Linked DNA regions of Homo sapiens. The protein of the gene in region 1 purifies or fractionates together with the protein of each later gene. This does not show direct contact. Each region holds a gene or a part of one and is shown in the gene's direction. Other genes may lie near its edges.

Region 1 (3,821 bases):
TTTCCCTTTTACAGGTTAAAAAAAAAAAAGTGTCATATCACTAGAGGGAGAATTAGGGCAGCTTCCTTGCGGGAAAATTTCTCCTATAAATGCTATTTTCTGGGTTTTCCCTAGGTTGTATGGTGGCTGACTGACAACACAACAATTAAATAGTATTAAAAGTACAAAGTTTTTCGCCCCTAACTACCTTCAATGCCATGCTTTTTTCTTTTTCTTTTCTTTTTTTTTTGTTAGACAAAGTCTTCTTCTGTTGCCAGGCTGGAGTGCAGTGGTGCAATCTCGGCTCACTGAAACCTCTGCCTCCCGGGTTCAGGTGATTCCCCTGCCTCAGCCTCCCAAGTAGCTGGGACTACAGGCGCATGACACCACCCCCGGCTAATTTTTTTTTTTTTTTTTGTATTTTAGTAGAGATGGGGTTTCACCGTGTTGGCCAGGGTGATCTTGATCTCCTGACCTCGTGATCCGCCCGCCTTGGCCTCCCAAAGTGCTGGGATTCCAGGTGTGAGCCACTGCACCCAGCCCAATGGCATGCTTTAACAACTGCGTTAGTGAGGGTACCATCTAAATTGCTGTAGCAAAGAGACTCTTAAATCAGTGGTTCAAACAAGCTACAAGCTTATTTCTCTCTCACGCACTGGTCCAGCCACAGGTAGCTAGACCTAGTAGAATGGCTCTGCCATTTTCGATATGTGGTTTCCATCTTTGGTTCCATGTTAGCTTTTCCGCCTCACCATTTTCCAGTCCATATGAAGTGAGGGAAGAGCCGGGGAAATGCACATTCAGATTTATGCTTCCATCCCATTGGCCAGAAATTAGTTACATAATGACACTGAGCTACAAGGAAAGCTGACAAATGTAGTGTCTATCTGAACAACCATATGCACAGCTAAAACTAGGGAGTTACATTCAGGGCCACCACTTTGCATAACTCCTCCATGAGGCACCTTTCCCCTTGAATCTATAAAAATAATGCCCAAGAGTCATGCAACATGGCTATGCTATTGTATAACTAAGAGAAGGAATAGCTATTGTATAACTAAGATTAGCCATGGTGGGAGAGCCGGAGATTACCTCCATACCCCTTTAGGCTGGATCAGATATTACCTCCATACCCCTTTAGGCTGGATCAGAGATTACCTCCATATCCCATTAGGCTGGATCAGAGATTACCTCCATACCTGTTTAGGCTGGATTAGGGATTACCTCCATATCCCTTTAGGCTGGATCTAGAAACCAAGTTGACACCAGGGAGATTAACAAGAGGAAAGTATGCACATTTTTATCAGTTTTACATCTACATGGGGATCTTCACAAGAGTCAAGTCTAAAGAAGTGGCCGAGGCAAGATGCTTCTATACTTTTTAAACAAATAATAAATTTGAAAAAAAAATGACAGAACAAAGGGAATCTGGCTAGGGGCAGTAAAGTTTCTAGGGGAGTGTAAACCGGAAAGTCTCTGTGACAGGTCTCAATCAGCTTAGAAGTTTCTTTTGCCAAGGCTTAAGGACATGCCCAGAAGAAAACAAACAAACAAACAAACAGAATCACAGAAACAGTCTGTGGTCTGTGCCCTTCTCCAAAGATGAATTTGAGGGCTTCAATATTTAAAGGGGATGCCAGGCACGGTGGCTCCCGCCTGTAATCCAGCACTTTGGGAGGCTGAGGCAGGCGGATCACTTGAGGTCAGGAGTTTGACCAACATAGAGAAACCCCATCTCTACTAAAAATTTAAAACTTAGCCAGGCATGGTGGTGGGCTCCTGTAATCTCAGCTACTTGGGAGGCTGAGGAAGGGAGAATTGCTTGGACCCAGGAGGCAGAGGATGCAGTAAGCCGAGATAGCACCACTGCACTTCAACCTGGGTGACAGAGCAAGACTCCATCTCAAAAAAAAAAAAAAAAAAGTAAAGCGGAAAAGTCAAGGAGGGGAAAGAGGGAGGGGTGTGGTAACGCACACATTGCAAGAGAAAAGGAGCAGGTAGGGGAAGAGTGAATGGCTGTATTCCTCTCGCACTCAGTAAGTTGGAACTTCACAGAAGATAAGATGAACATAGAGTTGCTCCCTGTGGAGATATTTAACCTTTTATTTGTAGCTGTCTGTTTAGGAACAAAAGGGAAGGCAACGTCTTGCATGACTCAGCTTTCAGCTTACTTTATTCCTTTTGGCAGCGTGAACTGGGGTCCCGCGTTTTTATTTTCCTTTCACTAGAGGGCATCACCAGAAGATATATGGGGGGAGATAAGGGTTACTTTACCTATAGTGGAAGATAAGGGTTCCTTTGTTGAGTATATTTATTCAGCTCCTTTGCAGCCCCGTTCCCAGTCTCTGGTGATAAGGGCTATTTTCTCGCCCCGAAATGCTGAGGGTTCCCCTCCCAGAGGAATCTTGATGGCTTGCTGCCTGCAGGAAGAGGAGGTCAGCTCACCCTTTCTGGAACCGCAGTTTCTCCAATGTTTTCAACTAGAAGTAATCAGTGCACCAATCTAGCATTTTTGGGGATGGCATGTCTTTCAGTCCTTCAGTGGGCATCTGCAGTTTGCCATGGTAACTAATGAACTAGTGCACATATCATAATGGTACACTCTGAATTTTTACAAAGTGAACCAACCCATGTAATTACCACCCACATGAAGATAACAGAGCATTCAGGGAGTTGCAGCGGCCTTCCTCCTGGCCCTTCCCAGTCCTTACTACCCATTACAAAGGTCGTCATGATTCTAGCCTCTATCTCCTTAGCATTTCCTCTTTTTGAACTTTATATATGAAATGGAATTATATCACAGTACTTCTTTCTTTTTGAGACAGGGTCTCGCTCTGTTGCCCAGCCAGATCTTGCAGTGGCACGATCTTGGCTCACTGCAACCTCCACCTTGCAGGCTGAAGTAAGCCTCCCGCCTCAGCCACCAGAGTAGCCGGAAACACAGGCACAGGCCATCACACCCGGCCAAGTTTTGTTTTTGTTTTTTTGAGAGACAGGCTCTCACCATGTTGCCCGGGTTGGTTTTGTTTAGCTTTGCTTTGGCTCAACTCTCATTCATGCTATTGCCCATAGCACTAGCTTATTCTTTTTCACTGTTAGAATTCCATTGTGTGACTATACCAAAACCTATTTATCCATTGTCTTGCTGATGGATATTTGACTTGTTTCTAGCGTGGGGCTTTAACAAGTAATGCTGTTGGGAGCATTCTTATACAGTACATGTCTTTTGTTGGACATGTGTAGACATTTCTCTTGCATATATACCTATAGGTGCAATTGCTGGACCACAGGTTGTGCATATGCTTAGTTTTATTTTTTATTTTATTTCATTTTTGGGATTGAGTCTTGCTCTGTCACCCAGGCTGGAATACAGTGGTGCAATCTAGGCTCACTGCAACTTCTGCCTCCTGGGTTCAAACGATTCTCCTGTCTCAGCCTCCTGCACAGCTGGGATCACAGGCAACCACCACCATGCCTGGCTAATTTTTGTATTTTTAGTACAGGCAGGGTTTCACCATGTTGGCCAGACTGGTCTTGAGCTCCACCTCATGTGATCTGCCTGCCTCAGCCTCCCAAAGTTCTGGGATTACAGGCATGAGCCACCGCGCCCAGCCTATTTTTTTTTTTTTTTTAAAGAGTCCTTCTGTCACCCAGGCTGGAATGCAGTGACACAATCTCAGCTCACTGCAACCTCCACCTCCCTGGCTCAAGTGATTCTCGTGCCTCAGCCTCCCGAGTAGCTGGGACTACAGGCACTCACCACCACACCTGGCTAGTTTTGGTATTTTTAGTAGAGACGGGGTTTCACCATGTTGGCCAGGCTGGTAATATGTTTAGTTATA
Region 2 (3,821 bases), on another chromosome or scaffold:
GCTGTAGTAGTGTAGTAGTGGTATGTACTATATGCCTCTAGGTGCTTACTTATTTCTTATGATGAAAGCATTTCTGTTAAAATGGGGAGTACCTAAGTGATCATATATTTCATTTATGTAATGGAAGTTGATGGATAGCTAATGGCCCTTCCAGTGTAAAGCGGCCATCATTAAGGTAACATTATCAGAAACAGAATCATTTTTCATGTAATACAGCTTTTAGGGACAGTGTCAACTTATGAGTAAAGCATGCTGTTACAGGTAGGACCCGGATAGTCCAGGCTGAAAGATGTGGTATAAACTTTGATGCATATAATAGATGCATAGCAAATATTTGATGAGTGAATGAATGAATGTAATGAATGTATTCCCTTTTTTTTTGGAGTGCAGTGCTGTGATGATGTCTCACTGCATCCTCTACTGCCTGGGCTCAAGTGATTTTCCCACGTCAGCCTTCTGAGAAGCTGGGACCACAGGTGTGTGCCACCATGCCTGGCTAACTTTTTTTTTTATTTATAGAGATGAGGTTTCCCTGTGTTTCCCAGGCTGGTCTCCTGGAACTCCTGGGTTCAGGGGATCCTCCCATGTCAGCCTCCCAAAGTGTTGAGATTACAGGCATGAGCCATCATGCCCTGCCCGGAATGCATTCTTTAAAAAAAAAAAAAAAGCTTTATTGAGGTATAATTTACATACAATAAAATTCACCAATTTTAAGTGTACAGTTTGACAAATTTTGACACATGTATACAGTTGTATAATTACCACCACTGTGTTTATTTTTTTAAACTGTGTGTTATCTTTTAGGAATTGGGTAGCAGATTTATCCCTGGGAATGTTATGAGGTTTCTATGCTCAGATTCAATACTGTGAGATCAGAATGAATATTAGAGTGTTAATGTGCCAACTTGGGAGGAAATAGGAAAACCTTCGGTATTTAATGGTGAGGTAAATAGGAAGAATAAGGAGAGACATTTATTGGATTAGGGGAAAGATAAATAAATTCAGGAGGAAGTAGATTTTAGTTACTTTTAAGACAGAGGATACATTTTGGGGAAAAAGTTACCAAAAGATTTAAGGAGTTGAACTTTTTATTTTTTTTCTTTTGAAATGGTAGCTCCTGAAATATAAAACTTAACATCTTTGGCTGTGCTTAAGAAGCGCTTAACAAATTATGGTTGTTCAAATAATACTTAAGGGTGGGGATGGTGTAAAGTGGTTGAAGGCCTTGCCCTTCCACCTATGACAGAATATCCTTAGTGTTGATCTCTAACTTGTTTTAAGTAATATTCCACAAAGGGAAGAATACATTAGGTAGCAATTGTGGCTTGCGGGGAAGATTGTTTCTTCCTTTTCATAATTTCTCAAGTCACTGAACTTCTCCCAGTATGCTTTAGCTCAAGTCTCTGTCTCTTAGAAAATGCCTGGAACCTGTGCTAGTGAGCTTCTAGAAGAAGCCCCATTTCTACCTTCTCTTTATTTTTTGATTTTATCTTTATTCATTCTGTTTCTGTATGGTGACTGTGTTTTTTTTTTTTGAGACGGTGTCTCACTGTGTCACCCAGGCTGAAGTGCAGTGGTGTGATCTTGGCTCACTGCAAGCTCCGCCTCCCGGGTTCACGCCATTCTGCCTCAGCCTCCCGAGTAGCTGGGACTACAGGCACCCGCCACCATGCCCGGCTAATTTTTTGTATTTTTAGTAGAGATGGCATTTCACCGCGTTAGCCAGGATGGTCTCGATCTCCTGACCTCGTGATCCGCCCGCTTCGGCCTCCCAAAGTGCTGGGATTAGAGGCGTGAGCCACCGCGCCCAGCCGGTGACTATTTTATAAGCCCTTCTCTCACCCATGGATTTGTCTGAGAATGGAAACTTTTTTTTTTTGCTCTGCCCGAAGCAAAGGAATTCTTGTTAAATCCACCATTGGTCCTCCGTATACCATTAGGAAATAATAATTAAAATAACCCTTTAGATCTACTCAAAGGGGTGACTATAATAGTGTTCCCTCCTTGAGCGGGGGACATGCTAATCTTCTCTGTATTATTCCAGTTTTAGTATTTGTGCTGCAGAAGTGACTACTCTGTTCACCTTTGAAAAAATAATAACTCTATGAGGTAGTCATTATCCTTATTTTATAAATGAGGGAACTGAGCTCAGAGCAGTTAACTGCCAGAGCAAGTGAGGGGCAGACCATTGATTCGAGCTCAGGTATGATTGATGCTCAGGTTTGGGGTCTATGTCATTACACTCTCAGTTGTATGGGAGTGGAGGGTCAAGGGAAGAGCTTGAAAATACCATATTAAAATATGAGCCACAACATGACAAGCATTGCTAACCTTTTTAGGCATTGCTGTTGTCATCTATGACTTTCTTAATTTCTGGAGATTCCTCCTTATGTTCTAAGGAATTGATAGTTAATCCTTTAGTATTGCACAACTTCCTTCCCAGACTCAGCATTTTTTTTTTTTTTTTTTTTAAGAGACGGGATCTCACTCTTTCTCTCGATCTGGAGTATAGTGGCAGTCATAGCTCACAGCAGCCTTGAACTCCTGGGCTTAGGCAGTTCTCCTTCCTCAGCCTCCGATTAGCTGGGACTACAAGTGTGCACCACCATGCCCAGCTAATTAAGAAACATTTTTTTTTTTTTTGTAGAGATAGGGTTTTGCTTTGTTGCCCAGGCTGGTCTTGAACTCCTGGGCTCAAGCGATTCTCCCACCTTGGCCTCCCAGAGTGTTGGGATTACAAGCATGAGTGGCACCTGGCCCCAACATGCTTTTTTTTTTTTTTTTTTTTTGAGAGAGTCTCACCCTGTCACCCAGGCTGGAGTGAAGTGGTGTGATCTCGGCTCATTGCAACTTCCACCTCCCGGGTTCAAACGATTCTTCTCCCTCAGCCTCCCAAGTAGCTGGGAGTACAGGTGCCTGCCACTACACCCAGCTAATTTTTGTATTTTTAGTAGAGACAGGGTTTTACCATGTTGGCCAGGCTGGTCTCGAGCTGCTGACCTCGTGATCCGCCTGCCTCGGCCTCCAAAAGTGCTGGGATTACAGGTGTGAGCCACCGCACCCAGCCTTATTCTTTATTAACATGGTACTTTGTATCACTGGCTGTTTGAATTACTCCTCTGAAAGCTTCTACCCGGGTAATCTTTCATTCAAGACCTGCCGTATTTGCATGTGCCCCTTTATACCGTTTGTTTCTTTATTTTTACAAAAAAATTTAAAAATATGGACTGCTTTATGAATTAGCATGTCATCCTTGTGCAGGGCACATACTAATCTTCCCTGTACCATTCCAATTTTAGTATTTGTGTTGTGGAAGTGAGCACTCTATTCCTGTTTTTATCTGGACAAAATAGTATTTTAAAAATGTATTATGGGCTGGGCTAACATGGTGAAACCCCGTGGCTACTAAAAATACAAAAAATTAGCCAGGCATGGTGGCAGGCACCTGTAGTCCCAGCTACTCGGGAGGCTGAGGCAGGAGAATGGCGAGAACCCAGGAGGCAGAGCTTGCAGTGAGCCGAGATCACGCCACTGCACTCCAGCCTGGGCAACAGAGCGAGACTCCGTCTCAAAAAAAAAAAAAATAAAAGTATATTACGTTATTAAAAACTTTATGATTGAAGTATATAATACATATACAGAAAAATGCATGTAAAAGTGGAATTTGATGTTTTTTTCCCACAAACTGAATATACCCATGTAAGCAGCACCTAGATCTAGATCAAGAAACAGCGTTACCAGTACCTAGAAGCCCCTATCCAGTTCCCTTTCAGTTCCTGTCTCCCCTCTACCACCCAGGGTAATCACCATCCTGACTTCTG

The links.
Region 2: the proteins of APBB1IP (region 1) and LUZP1 fractionate together in Homo sapiens (co-fractionation; one large-scale study listed by BioGRID). This does not show direct contact.

What each region holds. Positions count from the first base shown.
Region 1 is NC_000010.11:26,514,660-26,518,480, forward strand, and holds part of APBB1IP (amyloid beta A4 precursor protein-binding family B member 1-interacting protein), read left to right. Parts: intron 1-3,821. UniProt on the Homo sapiens protein: Appears to function in the signal transduction from Ras activation to actin cytoskeletal remodeling. Suppresses insulin-induced promoter activities through AP1 and SRE. Mediates Rap1-induced adhesion.
Region 2 is NC_000001.11:23,162,206-23,166,026, reverse strand, and holds part of LUZP1 (leucine zipper protein 1), read left to right. Parts: intron 1-3,821.